Regions from separate parts of the Homo sapiens genome. Here region 1 is linked to region 2. A link means that fine-mapping ties the variant in region 2 to the expression of a gene that starts in the linked region. Tissue or cell type: whole blood. Region 2 holds a variant in brackets; the other region holds the start of a gene. All regions are shown on one strand. Distances are from middle to middle.

Region 1 (7,499 bases), 320 kb before region 2:
GACATCAAGAAAGGAAGCATGTAACTATGGACTGTGAACACAATATAAAGAAAATGATGTAAAATTTCTTATATCCTTATTCAAATCACGCCTTGCAGTTTTTTACTCTAAAATCATTGCAGACGTATATAGATAAAGGGTCAAAAAACAACATGTATGAATGACATTTAAGGAAAAAGAGATAACAGAAGAAAAGGGAAAAGGAGAGGTGGAGAATTTATTATATCATCTAAATATATGAAGCCCTTCTAAAGGGTCAATGCAGACATATTGCACCCAGATAAATAGAAGAAATGACATTATATTCTATATCTCTTACGTTAGCAATTTTTAAATTCCTTGAGTCAGAAGCGTTAAACACTGGAATGACTAAGGTTACATTTGTTATGGAAATTTCTTAAATTTAGAAAGACCTCATACACACACCTGAAGGTAAAAAAAAATGTACTTAATCAGTGGGTTGCAACCAAGTTACTTGTCAGAATCACCTGTAAACCTTGAAAAAATATGGATTCTCAAACTTACCTTATCAGAATCCCTGGGTGCTGAGTCCAAGATCCACCCCAACAGATTTTGATGTAGCCAGGACACAGAGTTTTTTCTACCATAATGGGAGAGGTAGGGAGGAGGATCACTAGGAATGGCAACACAGAGTGGGAACTAGATCAATGCAAATTTTGTGGGCAAAATAGAATTTCTGTGGGTGTGATATTTTTAAGATGTATTGTAAGGCTGCTCTGAACCATCCAAGCATATCCCACTGAATTTAAACATTCTCTAAAGGTCCTGAAGTCAGCAACTACAATCCAGGTGAACCAAAAGTTGCTCCTCTATGTCATAGAAGCCTACAGGAGAGGCAGTAGGGTGGGAATGGAGCAGAGAGATCCCAAGAAGTTATGGGTAAATATTTTTTAAATCTAAACATTCAGAAAAATAAGAGAGACTAGGAATCACTCTCCTCCTCCTCTCCACCACACCAAAAAAAAAGGAATAATAAGAAAGTGAAAGGAAAAATAGTTTTAGGTTAAATTTCATCACCATCTGAAAGAAAATTACTCCGATTTTGTTTAAGCAAGAGAAGAATTCAGCTGAGAAATTATCTAGCAGGCAGCAAAATCAGGGAGTCACTTCCCATTGCAAAGCAAAAGAAAACAAGGAGCAAGAGGATGGTCCTGGATAGCTGTTTAGACAATCAGACATACTGCTAACATCTCCTTGCCTTAGAAACTCCGTGATGTTTAAATTAACAATTGGCCACAAGCCAAACACAGGAACACTCAAAAGTTTAGAAGGGTGTGCTGCAACTGGTACCTTAGCAAAACACAATAATAAATTAAGAGGATTCAAGAAGCCTTCACTGTAGACTCTAAGAAGATTTAAGATTTGTACCGAGAAACGGCTTCTAAATCTCTTCTACTGCATTAGTTTAGCATCTAAAGAACACCTGTCTAAAAATCAAAATATCTAAATCCTATCCTTTGAGTCAACTTGACTAACACTCAACTTGACTACCTAAAAGCTAGCTAATAATCGCAGCACCTCAGCAGAGCAGAGGTGGAGGGCATAGTTTTATGCACTGAGATCCTATAATAAAAGAAGCCCTATGTGTCAGAGTAATCCCATTTCTGATATCATATTATTTAATACTTAATTTTTCAAATCACTTTACAATTATATTTATTATTCCCTACAATTCTCTAAAGCAGGTTATTCCTTTAGTCCTGCTTCATAGGTGAGGAGACTACATATCATGAAGATTAAGTTATTTACCAAAACAAGTTAATGATAGACCAAGGATTATTACCCTCAGACTGTCTCATTGATCATACTCCTCTCTATCCTAAAGCTACACTTAAAGCTTTCACTCAAAGAAAAAGGAAAAGCAAAAACACCATCATATATGCTCTTTATTAAATGCTTCAGAAACAACGGCTCTGCTTCATCACTACAAAGCCTCCTGGTCCACTTCTGAAATTCTTAGTGACCTAGACGTGTACGAAATTTGAACTTTCCAAGAAGTATCTAGTTGGTGCTGAACAACCCAGTACTATTTTCGGGTGATAAATAACCTTGTTCTCTTTTTAAACATCTGCGATTGACATGTCGACTGACTGTTAACAATGAACAAAGACCATATTTTTCTGAAGCTCATCATCTTCCTAACCTTTTCTTTGAAAACAGATGTAGTTCATGTACTAGTTTTTTGGTGAAGGTAAAAATCTTTATTCAGATTAGGCTCAGAAAAAGAAGGGGCTGCTTTCCGTTCAACAAATATGCACAAGACAGCATCCCACTGGGAGCATCAATCTCAGAAGCAGTAAAACACAGCCTCGGCCCTGAAAGGACTTTCTGAACACCTTTGGAGTGTCATCCGTTTAATATACATTATTTTAATTAATCCTATTAGCTGGATAATTTCTTTCCCATTTTATTGGTGAGTTCATATAGCAGAGCTGGATTTGAATCCAGGATTACAGAGCAGGGCTCCAAAGCCCAAGTTATTTCCACTAAAGGGTCTGAAGAAATGTAGAATCTAAAAGTGTGGGTGGGATGGGGAAGATATGATTTGATTCCCTTTCCTTGGTCCAACCGTGTTAGAAACATCCAACCATAAAGAAGCTTTCTAAGGAAGCCCTTTGAATTAACGTATCCACTTTTTCTCACCCGCCCGTGCCCCACCCCCAGCCATGCCAAAGGAGCAGCAAATGCTGCTGCCAGGTTGGAGGAATTGGTGATCGTCACACCACATTCCTGGGTCTGGACACAGCCTGAAACAGCAGCAGAGCTCCGCGCCTCGGAAAGAATAACAGCAGTTGAGATTTTTAAATCATGTGCCTCAGCATGCAGCCACACCAGTTGCCCTACTTCTCCTGCCTCCACCTTTCAAAGACGCGAGCAGCACACACGGCTCCCCCGGACTTTCGGTGGGGTTGGAGTGTCAAAACTCAGGCGCGCCGCAAAACCCCGTCCCCATCCAAACCAAGCCCACACACCCGGCCCATGTGCCGCCCCCTGGCAAAGGCGAGGCTGGCTGCGACGGTGCAGGCCGTTTGGCTTGGCGGCCCTGCCCCCGCTCTCCACGCCAGAATCTGGCATTCCTTCGCTCAGCCCCTCCGAGGCCCGCCGTCGGCTCTCGCTCGACCCCAAGAAACGCGGAACCTGAAGGGCAAAACTGCCCACCTCCCTGCACCCTGGCACTACGAAAAAGGAGTTTCTGAGACTTGCTGCCGGCCTCCCTCCTGCCGAGGAGGCGTGTAAGGGGTCCCGGGCCGCGGGGAGCAGAGGCGGCGGGGAACCCCGGCGGTTGGCGGGGCACCACGGGAGGGGCCCCCGGCGATGTCCAAACTCTTGGGAACCCAGCGAGTGGCCTCGCTCCGCGCCGGCGGCCGAGCCTGGCCTTCCCACACAGAGAAGGACCGAGGGGGAGAAGGGTCGCCCCAGGTGGCAGCCCCGGGCGCCGCGGACAGCGCCCCTCAGCCCGATACTCACCATGCGCGGGGGCCGCGCAGCACAGCCAGAGCGCCAGCAGCGCCCACAGCAGAGCGGGGCGCAGGGCGGGCATCTTCTCGGTCGCCTCCTCCTCCGCCGCCGCCGCCGCCGCCTGGGCAGATCCACATGGGGAGGGGGTCCCGATAGAGGAGCCCCACTCTCTCCTCCCCTCCTCCTGCTTCAAAGGCTCAGGCCCTGGCGCTACGCTCCGAAGCCCAGGCGCAAATGCCTCGACTCCCCGCGCCCCGAGTCCGCCGCTCCTCGGCCGCCGCCTCAGCCGCCGCCCGAAGTTTGGCTGAAACTTTCTCGGGTGTGCAACGAAGCAGCCTCGTGTGTCCTTCCGCCTCAGCCGCCTCCTCCCACCGCAAGCCCCGCCCCACTGTCGCCGCGGCCTCGGCCCCGCCGCCTTGGGCACCCAGGGGTTTCCCGCAGGAAGAAGCGCCGGCCCGAGCTCCGCGCGGAGGGATCTACTACGAGTCACTGGCCCCGTCCGCATCCTTCTCCAGCGGCCCCGGGGGCCGCCGCGCCTTAACTCGATCAGGGCTGCAGCGGCTCGCTGGCTTGACCAGTGCAGAAGGGGCGTGGGGGTGAGGGGGGTGGGGTAGGACTCTGAACTTCAAGCACTGGAGTTTGCCGGGATCGTGAACTTGCAGGGAGAGGCGGTCCTCATCCAGTGAGGTCTGTATCGCCACCTACACCCACACATCCACACACTGCTTTGCTAGCTAGAGGAATGCTCTGGAGTAGGACCAGTGCTGTCAAAGAAGGAAAGTGGGCCAAGGCGCCAAAGTCCATTAAAAAGGAATAGAGCCATCACGGAGTGGTGCTGCCCCATTCATTCATTCATTTGTTCATCCGTGTAGCGAATATTTCTTAAGTGCCTTACTTTGCGTAGCTGTGTGCTTGGCAGTGGGATGATACCAAAGATGCACAAGCAACTTTGAGTACCAAGACTTTGCCGCTGTGGGCTGGGGGATTCAGGGAAGGCTTTCCCAGAGGAGCTGGGATGAAAGCAGGATCTTGAAAGGTCAGTAAAATTTGTATAAGACAAGGAGACCAGCTAAGCTAAGGATATTCGTTGTAACACTGTAATAGCAAAACCTTGAAAACAACATAAATGCCCACCCTTAGAGGAATGGATGAATAATGTATGGTATATTTATAAAATGAAATGCAACACAGTAATTGAAAAGACTATAGCTATTTATGTCAATAGGGATAAATCTTAAAAACTAAATGATAGTGAAAAAACTAATCACAGAGGGAGACAAAGTATACCATTTATGTATATTTTTTTCAAGACAATACTACACATTATCTGTGGATGCATATATATAGATATAGATATTAAGAGACTATAACCAGAATAGTAGTTACTTCCAGGGCAGGAGAGTAGGGGGTGTGATCAAACCTGGGTACAAGTGGGCTTCTAAGAAAAGAGCTAAAAGTAAGAACAGCAACAATAGTTGTATGGACATATCATTCCAGGAAAGAGCCCTCGTGAAAGCAAAGGTACAGTCAAAAGAGTAAGTAAATGAGTTCTGTCTCTGTTAGCAGTGAGAGGAGTCAAGGACGGAAAGGGGGTTGGGACCAAATTATGCAGCCTTGAATGGCAAGCTGAAAGGGTGGGGAGGCAGCTACCTCTTAGGTCACATAAAACTATTGAAAGTTTTTGAACAGAGTTGAGATTGATGGAAAGGAAGATTGCTCTGATAATTCTGTAGAAAATTGATTGTTGGGGGAGCAAGAGGTGAACTGGAGCCCCAGGACCAGTCAAGAGTTGGTGAACAGTCCAGGCACAAATTTAAGAAGACCTGAACTAATAAGGTAGATTTCAGAAGGAATGAATCCGAGACAATGTTAAAGAAACAGAAAAAAAAAATGGAGGTGTGACTAATTGGATGTGGGAGTTTACAATCCTGTTGGGATGGGAAATCCTACCCATAGAACCTCTCCCTGACTCCTATAGGATAAAATTCAAACTTCTAAACATGGTACATACAAGGCCTTTTCGTCATTGGGCCCCATCTCCTGTCCTCCCTGCCCCTGTTGTGAACTTCACACAATAACAGTATTGACTAACTTGAGATTCCCCCAAACATATCTTGCTGTTTCTGTCCCTGTATCTTTTGTTCCTTTGGCTTGGAATGACTCCTGTAGTCCCCTTCCCTCCTCCTCTTAATGAACTTCTAATCATAATTCATCCTTCAGTCCAAAGAAGGCTTTGCCGACACCGCAATAAATTCCTCCCCCTAACAGACAGTCCCTCCACTGTCTTCCACTGCCGCTTCTTTATCTTAACACCGATACTTATTTTTCACACAGGACTCTTTGTATTTCTGTGTTCTCAACTAAGTTTTGAGGTCCTCATGGGCAAAGACCACAGCCTATTAATCCCCAGTGTCTATCACATAATAGATGTTGAACTAGAATGTGAAACAACACTAAGCAAGTACAAGTCAGTATGGGCATAGACCTATGAAGTTCCAAAACTGCATGTTAACAAGCACTTTAGGTAAGCAAGTACCATTAGTGAAAGTAGTCACATTGAAATACTGGAAACCCTTTTCAAAAATAATGTAGTCAAAATATTTTTGGAATTTGTCTTGTGCAAGTATGTTCAGAGAAAGATAACATTATTTTTCAGTTGTTTACCCACAGTGTTACCAGTTCGATCTTCCTCTTTACTCACTAAAGATAATTCATAGTGACTTGGCTGCATACAAATTTTAAAAATCACCTGCAAAGATAAGTTTTGTCACTATTAAAATATATTCAGAAGAATATAAGATAGTTATCCCCAAAGAGCAACTCTAGAAGCGACTGTAGCTATGACAACATTATTAAAATAAATGTGCAGGCCAGGCGTGGCGGCTTATGTCATAATCCCAGCACTTTGGGAAGCTGAGGTGGGCAGATCACCTGAGGTCAGGAGTTTGAGACCAGCCTGGCCAACATGTTGAAAACCCGTCTCTACTAAAAATACCAAAAATTAGCCGGGCATGGTGGCGAGCACCTGTAATCCCAGCTACTCAGGAGACTGAGGCAGTAGAATCACTTGAACCCAGGAGGCAGAGATTGCAGTGAGCCAAGATCGTGCCACTGTACTCCAGCCTGGACAACAAGAGTGAAACTCCGTCTCAAAAAAAAAAAAAAAAAAAAAATAGGTATGCAGTTTCTCAAAGTAACCGTTTTAAAGAAAGCAGCTATTATGTTCACATATAACTTTTGTTGAATATGTTACAATATGAAAACTTACTGCATACATTCTGGTAAGGACAAGAGAAGTAAAGAGTAAATATGAATGGAAGTAAGGGAAAAATATGACTGAAGACATTTTTTAAAGATAAGTTTTAATGATAGAAAAATATGAATAAGGGCTACCAATTGTTTTAGTTTTAATCAAAACTAAAAATATACATCTATGTCTTTACTGATTTAAACTCACATAAAACTGCCTTCCAAAATAAATGCAGAATTGGGCACTTATTTGTTCTCATGTCTGTCCTCTCAGAGCCGATAAGCTGTAAAAAAAACTCTCAAAATAAAACTCTGTTTTATTTTCTGTTTTGCCTCGGTTTCTATCACATAAGTGCTCAATAATATATGTTTTACATAAATGCTGAATGAGGAACATATATATCTATATAAACTGGGGAACAATGCAAGACTGGAAGAATGTCTTGGTGTGTTGGAGAAGTTGAAGAAGAGATTGTGGGATAGCTATGACACATAGATTGAGCTACACCACGAATCTCTCCATGTAACCCAGGAACCCAAGGATATGTGATGAGATGTTTGTGGAAGCAGGAATTAAAAGGAAGATTTCTTTTAATAATGCCTTGCAGTTGCGCAGTGATTTAGACCTTCCAAAAACACTTTTAATTATATTATCTCATTTGATCCTCAAAACAATCGTGGGAAATAGGCACCCCAGTCATTATTATACCCATTTTGCAGATGAAGAAACTGAGATAGAGCTTTAAGTATCTTGCCCAAGGTTAAATAAG
Region 2 (7,499 bases):
ATGTAACAAATCTGCACGTTGTGCACATGTACCCTAGAACTTAAAGTATAATAATAATAATAATAACAATAATAATAAAAGAAAGCTGTTAAAAATGACCAGCATAGAATCTCTCTTCCCCACTGTCAGACAACATTTCAGTGGTCCCTGTAACTATTGCTCTGGTCCTGAATAAAATCTTTCTTGCCATGCTTGAAAAAAAAAAAAACAGAATTGCAAAATATGTCTCTGACAAAGGACTAATATCAAGAATCTACAAGGACCTCAAAGAATTCAAGAAGAGAAAAAGAAACAACCCCATTAAAAACTGGGCAAAGGACATGAACAGACATTTTTCAAAAAAAAAAAAAATGCAAGCAGCCAACAAACACATGAAAAAATGCTCAGAATCACTAATCATTAAAGAAATGCTCATTAAAACCACAATGAGATATCATCTTATATCAGTCAGAATGGCTGTTATTAAAAAGTTGAAAAAAGAAAAAAACAGAGGTTGACTTGGATGCAGAGCAAAGAGAGAACGCTTATACACTATTGGTGGGAATATAAATTAGTTCAAGCTCTATGGAAAACAGTATGAAGATATCTCAAAGAACTGAAAACAGAACTACCCTTTGACCCAGAAATATTCATAACTGGACACCTACCCAAAGGAAAACAAATCATTATAGGACAATACCATGACAATAGCAAAGTCACGGAACCAACCTAAGTCTAACCTATGGGTCCATCAATAATTGATTGGATAAAGAAAATGTGATATATATACACATCATGTAATACTACACCACCATAAAAAAGAATGAAATCATGTCCTTTGAAGCAACATGGATGGAGGTGTAGAACATTATTCTAAGTGAATTAACTCAGAAACAGAAAATAAAATACTGCATATTCTCACCTACAAGTGGAAGCTAAACAATTGGTACACATGGACATAAAGATGGAAATAATAGACACTGAGGTTTCCCAAAGGGGAGAGGATGTGAGTGTTGAAAAACTACCTATTAGGTACAATATTCATTATTTGGGTAATGGGTGAACTAGAAGCCCAATCCCCACCAGTATGCAATATACCCATTTAACAAACATTCACATGGACCCCTTGAATCTAAAATAAAATAAATATTTTTTAAATGACTGGAATGTGTGAAAAAGGAAACAAAGAACATTTCTAAAATAGAAAGATGCAAAAAATAAATTTTTAAATGCAATGGCTGTTCACTATTTTGTAGTAGCTAAAGTAGGTACTAGTGAATCCAAAGATCAGTCAGAAGAAATTATGCAGAATGCATCACAGCAAAACAGAGGCAGTGAGACATTTTACCATATTTTTACTTGGATTCCTAAACAAAGAGGAGAAAGAACATAGAACAGAGAAAACCTTTGTAAGTAATATTTTAAGATAATGACTGATACCCTACATCAAAAGAAAGCCAACGGGAAGTTCCTAAATCTATAGAGGGTACACAAACATAAAACTACACTTGAACATGTCATGGCGAGTTGGACGAACCAAAAACAATAGTAAAACCAAAGAACAACCACACACATGCATAAATCCACAAGGTAGTGAATAAAACAGCTTACTTTCAAGGCAGCAGAATGGCATTGACCACTAACTACTCAACAGAAATGATGAAAGACGGATGCCAGAAGAATCAGATCACCAAAGTGCTAATAAAAAATAATTGCCAATCTAGAATTTCTAGGACCCACTTTTTAAGAGTAGGATGAAATGCAGACATTCTTGGGCAAACAAAAAAAGAGAGTTTATCTGCAGCATATCCTCAGAAAAGGATGTAATTAAATCAGAGAAAAAGATGAGGATCAAGAAGGTAGGAAACATGCAAAAATCATGACAAGTAGTTTTTGCCATTAAGAAAAAGATGAAACTAATTAATTCCACAAAACAAGTCAAGAATAACTCATGAATTAGAGGGAGCAGAAATGGAGTTGCCATCTTCAAAGGCACTCATTTTCAGGAGATGTATACAATTTTTGGAAAAACTTGTATTTGAAAAGTTAAGTATGCATTTTGCAATTTTCAGAGAGTGAAAGAATAGCAACAAAATACTTATAAACTAGGAAAGGAAAAATCTTGAATAAGAAAATAATCTAACCAAAAAAGCCACATTTAAGTACTATGTTTATTTTGTTAAATTAATTTAAATTTTAAAAAATTATCTTCACTCTATGCAATAATATTTGTGAAATTTTGACTCTGGTGTGTAAATTAACTTGTTTACTGCATTGAATCCTTTGTCATTTTTGTAATACTTTGATTATCTCCATCTAAATATTCAAACATCACCTCTTAACATAACCAGTGGTACACTTTCCATGATTTAGATATGGTGGTCTGACTAGCGTTGAAACTTGAGAGAAGCTAGCCTCAATAACAGGACCCAGGGATAACCATCTAGTTCTCCAGCGAAGGGCCTTAAGCCCTCTGGGGGTCCACCTTGTTGGTTACTCACTAATCAAAGATGTGCCCGGCCCCTAGTTTTCTCCTCCCTGACTCAAGTTCATGTCATTCAACTCTCTGCCTGGTTCACGGACTCATGGTATTCTGCCCTACTCCTGCTGCTTGGCTATCCACCAGTTACCAAAAGCTGAAGTTGATGCAACCACGTGAAATTTCTACAAGACCCTCCCCTCTTTGGGCTCCCATCACATTGTCACTACTGCCAGATGTCATCAGCGTGAGAGAATCAGTGGTGGTCCACAGGAGCATCTTGTTGTCCCTCCCTAAATGATACCAGCACCACTTTCCTCCCAAAATCAATGCTCCCAACCACAATACCCCCCTTGACTTCACTTGTGTTCCCAGCAAGCCATCAAAACTAGCACCAAGGCTCTCTCTAGGAGGCTATAAATATGTATGTTTTCCTTTTTTCTGTCTTTAAATGGTGAGTTAACACAAACAGACCTACATACACCAGACCCCAAGGTATCAATCTGGATCCCTTCACAGGATCCTTTTCCATTCACAGAACCAAGAAAAAAAAGCAAACTCTGAAGCCCAGCCCTTCCCTCCTCTATTCCGGAGCAGGCAGCTGATGGGACGCAAATGGGGCTGCTGAGCTTCAGGGTGGAAATGGAAGCCAGTGCCTTGTGCTCCTTGTGATGTGAAACGTGTTGCAGCTGCGCAGAGAAACAAGAGTTTTCACTGGACACAGTGCAAGGAGCAAGCAGGATGCCTTTCATGGACAGAAGCTGCATCTGTCTATACTTCAGCCATTCAATCAACAAACATTTCATGATCATCAGTTACTGCTATGAAAGGTAGATGCTGAGGGTAAAACAAGGAACAAGATGAGAATGCCCCACTCCCATATGGCACATGTAAAAGCATAAAAGTCTATCTGAATCATTTTTGAAACAGAAGGCCCATGACATTTCCTGCTGAGTCCACGTTGGCTCTTGTTTGTGGATACCAGCACATATTAAAATTATCTGAAATATTCAGTTGTGAGCCCCCTCCCCTGATATGGTTAGGCTTCGCGTCCCCACCCAGATCTCATCTTGAATTGTAATCCCCATAATCCCCATAATCCCTATTTGTCAAAGGAGAGACCAGGTGGAGGTAATTGAATCATGGGGATGGTTTCCCCCATGCTGTTCTCATGATAGTGAGTGAGTTCTCCCAAGATCGGATGGTTTTATAAGGGGCTTCTTCCCCTTTGCTTAGCACTTCTCCTTTCTGCCACCTTGTGTAGAAGGTGCCTTGCTTCCCCTTCACCTTCCACCATGATTGTAAGTTTCCTGAGGCCTCCCCAGCCATGCTGAACTGTGAGTCAATTAAATCTCTTTCTTTTATAAATTACCCAGTCTCAGGCAGTTCTTTATTACAGTATGAAAATGGACTAATACAGTGAGAAAAAAATAGCTCTGGAGGGCTGGGTTACATTCAGGACATGTACTAAATATTTTAATGCATTTTTTTAGCAAGCACGTAAAATGTCTCCCCCAAGGCTTTAAGCTCTCTTTCTACTTCCCTAAAGGTTTCCCCATCAAAATAGGAAATAAATATTGAAGCTAGAAAAGGCTTGTCCCCTTCAAAGTAAGTAAGGGCACGCTTCATGACAGGCATAACTTTCTTCAGACAGTGGGGGAGGACACTTAATTCCTT[C/A]ACCAAAGAAAAAAAAAGTTACAAAACAGCAACCTATGGAAACAAAAACATGGAATCAATGCATCGCCTGAAATAACTTCTCTGTAGTCCTGAGGGTGGTGTTTTGTTTGGCTTGTTCTCCTTCCCACCTTTTTATACCCCACAAGGATCCTTCTCATTCTGTTGTAGCCAGGGCTCCTAGAGAAGGCTGTCAACATTGAAGGGCCCAGATCCCTTCTACCAGTTTTTCTTGTGCTTCCTATGTGCTTGTAACTGTGAATCTCCTGCTTTTCAAACAACTCTTCTGCCTTTTGTATGGGTATACATTAAAGGGGAAAATCAGGGCCTCTTCACACTACTCTGGCAAAATCAACCTGAACTGCTGGATTATAGGTCTTGGCATCTGGAGCTGCCTGCTTGAGCCCTGGCAGGTCTGGAGGCTTGGGGCTCTTTCATTGACTCAGGAAATATTTCTGCTTCCCACCCAGGACTTCTGTTGTCTCTTCCTCCCTTCTCCTCCCCTGCTCTCAGGACTCTTAGATGTAGCCCAGGTTTGCTTCCACACAGTTGACATTGGCGGTGCATGGTCTTCTCCCCTCTACGCCCTCAGATCTCCATGCCTGTGCCTATGACACGTGCCACCTGCACCTGTGTAGCCAAGCCTGGCTCCTCATCCGTGGCCACTCCTGCCCCCACAACCTGCCAGTCCTGCCTCCTTTTTGCCTGCCTCCTGCCTATCTTTACTTCACTGATTTATTTGGCTGGAAAATATTTCTACAACTTCCCCTCCCACACTCACCTGGGGCTATGACATTGTTGTGCACACTGGTTGGGCCTCGCCCCTGCCACCTAACAAGTACATCCTACAGGCCCAGGAGGGCATTATCTGTGGTTTTGAATTTCTAGTGTCTCGAACTGTACTGGCCCAGAGAGGACCTCAAATATGGAAAACTGAAGTGATTGCTTTCTGCACGCGTTACCTATGCACCCATGCATAACTCACACAAACTTACTGAATCTTCATTTACTCTTCTGTAAAAGGGGAGTAATCAAAGAAATGCACTTTACTAACAACAAGAGGATGGCATAGTTTATCTTTTAAACTGATAAAGATGTTCTGAAATAAGAATCTATGTTTTCAAGGGTACAGGACTTTGGTAGTTACACCATGACAGTAAAGATGCATATTTTAGGAACTTGGTGGGGGATAATTTGACAATACACATCTACATGTTTACATTGTACATACCCTTTGACTGACACTCCACTGTTAGAAATTTGTACTAAGGAAATAATCAGACCTACAACATAAGCACTTAGCTATAGGAATACTGGTCAAAGAGTTGTTGATCATACTCAAAAATTAGAAACAATCTAAATATGCAATAAGAAATATTTAGGCCGGGCGCGGTGGCTCACGCCTGTAATCCCAGCACTTTGGGAGGCCGAGGCGGGCGGATCACGAGGTCAGGAGATCGAGACCATCCCGGCTAAAACGGTGAAACCCCGTCTCTACTAAAAATACAAAAAATTAGCCGGGCGTAGTGGCGGGCGCCTGTAGTCCCAGCTACTTGGGAGGCTGAGGCAGGAGAATGGCGTGAACCCAGGAGGCGGAGCTTGCAGTGAGCCGAGATCCCGCCACTGCACTCCAGCCTGGGCGACAGCGAGACTCCGTCTCAAAAAAAAAAAAAAAAAAAAAAAAACAACAAAAAAAGAAATATTTAAAATAAATTATATTGCATTCATCTGATGTAATATTATACAGACATTTAGAAAGCTCTTATAGTCAAAGGATAAGTAGGTTACCTTTGGCATATTAAATGAGTAAAACTGATACTAAGTTGATATACCCATTGTGATATAATTTTCTTTGGTTCTTAAATATTTTTATATACCTAAGGAAAAAGATTAAAAGCTTATGAAACCAAAATATTCACAGTTTAGTTATCACAGTCTAGTGTGATTATGGGTAATTTTTATTGTTTTAATTTCATATTTTTCTGTTCAAAGTTCCATTGCTTGTTTAATTAAAAAAAACTTTTAAATAATATTATAAAATGACCATCACAGAAAAAAATATCATTAGGCAATATTGCCATGACTATAGACCTTTCTCCCTACACTGTTATTCTTACAGTTGGATGCTTTGAATCGGGAAGTGATATATCGCCTTGCTTTTCGCTGGAGAAGGAAGCGCCAGCCTTTGTGAGCATGTGTATCACAAGCTAACTAGCACGAAGATTGCATAGCTCTTTCTACATAAGGCTACTGTTCGCAGAAATTTGGTCCATGGTCTCCAGTCTCTTGGGGTCTCACGCTCTGTGAAAATCTTCGTGTTTTTCCCTAGCCCCCAGAGTCACCTTTCACACAGCGTCTGCTTGTAACCGCGGTCCCCACAGGAGTTTGTAGGATTTCTGTGCCAGCGGTGAAGGTGTTCTCACCTCATAGAGCAAGGTAGAAACTACGCAGACAGGCGCTGTTCTTTGGGATGAAAGCAGGGCCTTTGGGGCTCTTTCTTAGTGTCCCCGTTCGGTTGTAGACATAACACGCTTGCTTTGTGTAGGAGATCGGCTCTGCCGGCGCCCAGGGGCCCTAACGCAGTTCATCGAGGCCCGCAGGTCAGAACTGCAGTCTCACCTGTCTTGGCGGAAATGCGCTGCGCTCCTCCCTGTACTACATAAGCACGAGAATTCCACTACAGAAGAAAACCCCAGGCCTAGTGATGGCGGTTCTGGGCATTTTGCCAGCTTCTCCCAGGGTGTGCTTTCTGACCCCACCCACTTCTGATCTGTAATGTCATGGTCAATAGAAACTACTGGGCCCAAACGGAAAAGGCAAGGAGGAACACAGCGGGAAAGCCTATGGCGTTCCCTGGTGGCTACCCCGGGGACTGCACTCATAGATCCGCGTGTTCCGAGAAGCCTCTGCCATCCCGACCCCGGAGCCGTGCAGAAACCCGCGGCTCCAAAGAAAACCGGCTAGAACGCACAGGAAGCCCAGCCAGTGTTCAGGACACTGCGAGTGGAAGCCGTACGTCCCACGGACTGATCTAGTTTGCTGAAGACGAGCCATTTACTTCTAACCCCAGCAGCGGACATTGCCTTGCTCAAATATAAAATATATGAACCAAGACCGAAAGCAACTCTTATTGCGTTACTGATGAGCAAACGGGTTTTTAGAATGGTTAAGAAATGTCCCTTGTTTTGGGACCGTCATCACTAACGTATGCTTGGGATTCCTGATCGAGGAGTTTCTGAGCAAAGCAGCCCACCAATCCAGTGGCTGAGAACGGCTTGGATATTGGCTTCCAGGCGCATCAGAAATACCGAGGTTCTGACAAAGACGTGAGCTTCTGTCTGCCTTTGGGAAGGCCTTCTTCCAGTCC

What was found. PIP is the estimated chance that this variant, and not a neighbour inherited with it, causes the effect.
Region 1: it holds the start of NOTCH2, and the variant in region 2 is fine-mapped to the expression of NOTCH2 in whole blood (INTERVAL, PIP above 0.99).

Annotation. Positions count from the first base shown.
Region 1 is chr1:120,065,845-120,073,343 of GRCh38, forward strand. NOTCH2 (notch receptor 2) reads right to left here and starts at 3,818. Exons shown (of 34, transcript NM_024408.4): 1 at 3,490-3,818. The coding sequence starts at 3,562. It overlaps LOC101929178 (a long non-coding RNA gene), which reads left to right and starts at 3,984. Exons shown (of 2, transcript XR_254374.4): 1 at 3,984-4,167.
Region 2 is chr1:120,382,035-120,389,533 of GRCh38, forward strand. No RefSeq gene overlaps it. Among named protein-coding and RNA genes, the nearest start is that of NBPF8, 29 kb to the right of the region's middle. The variant C/A (reference allele first, on the strand shown) is at 4,136.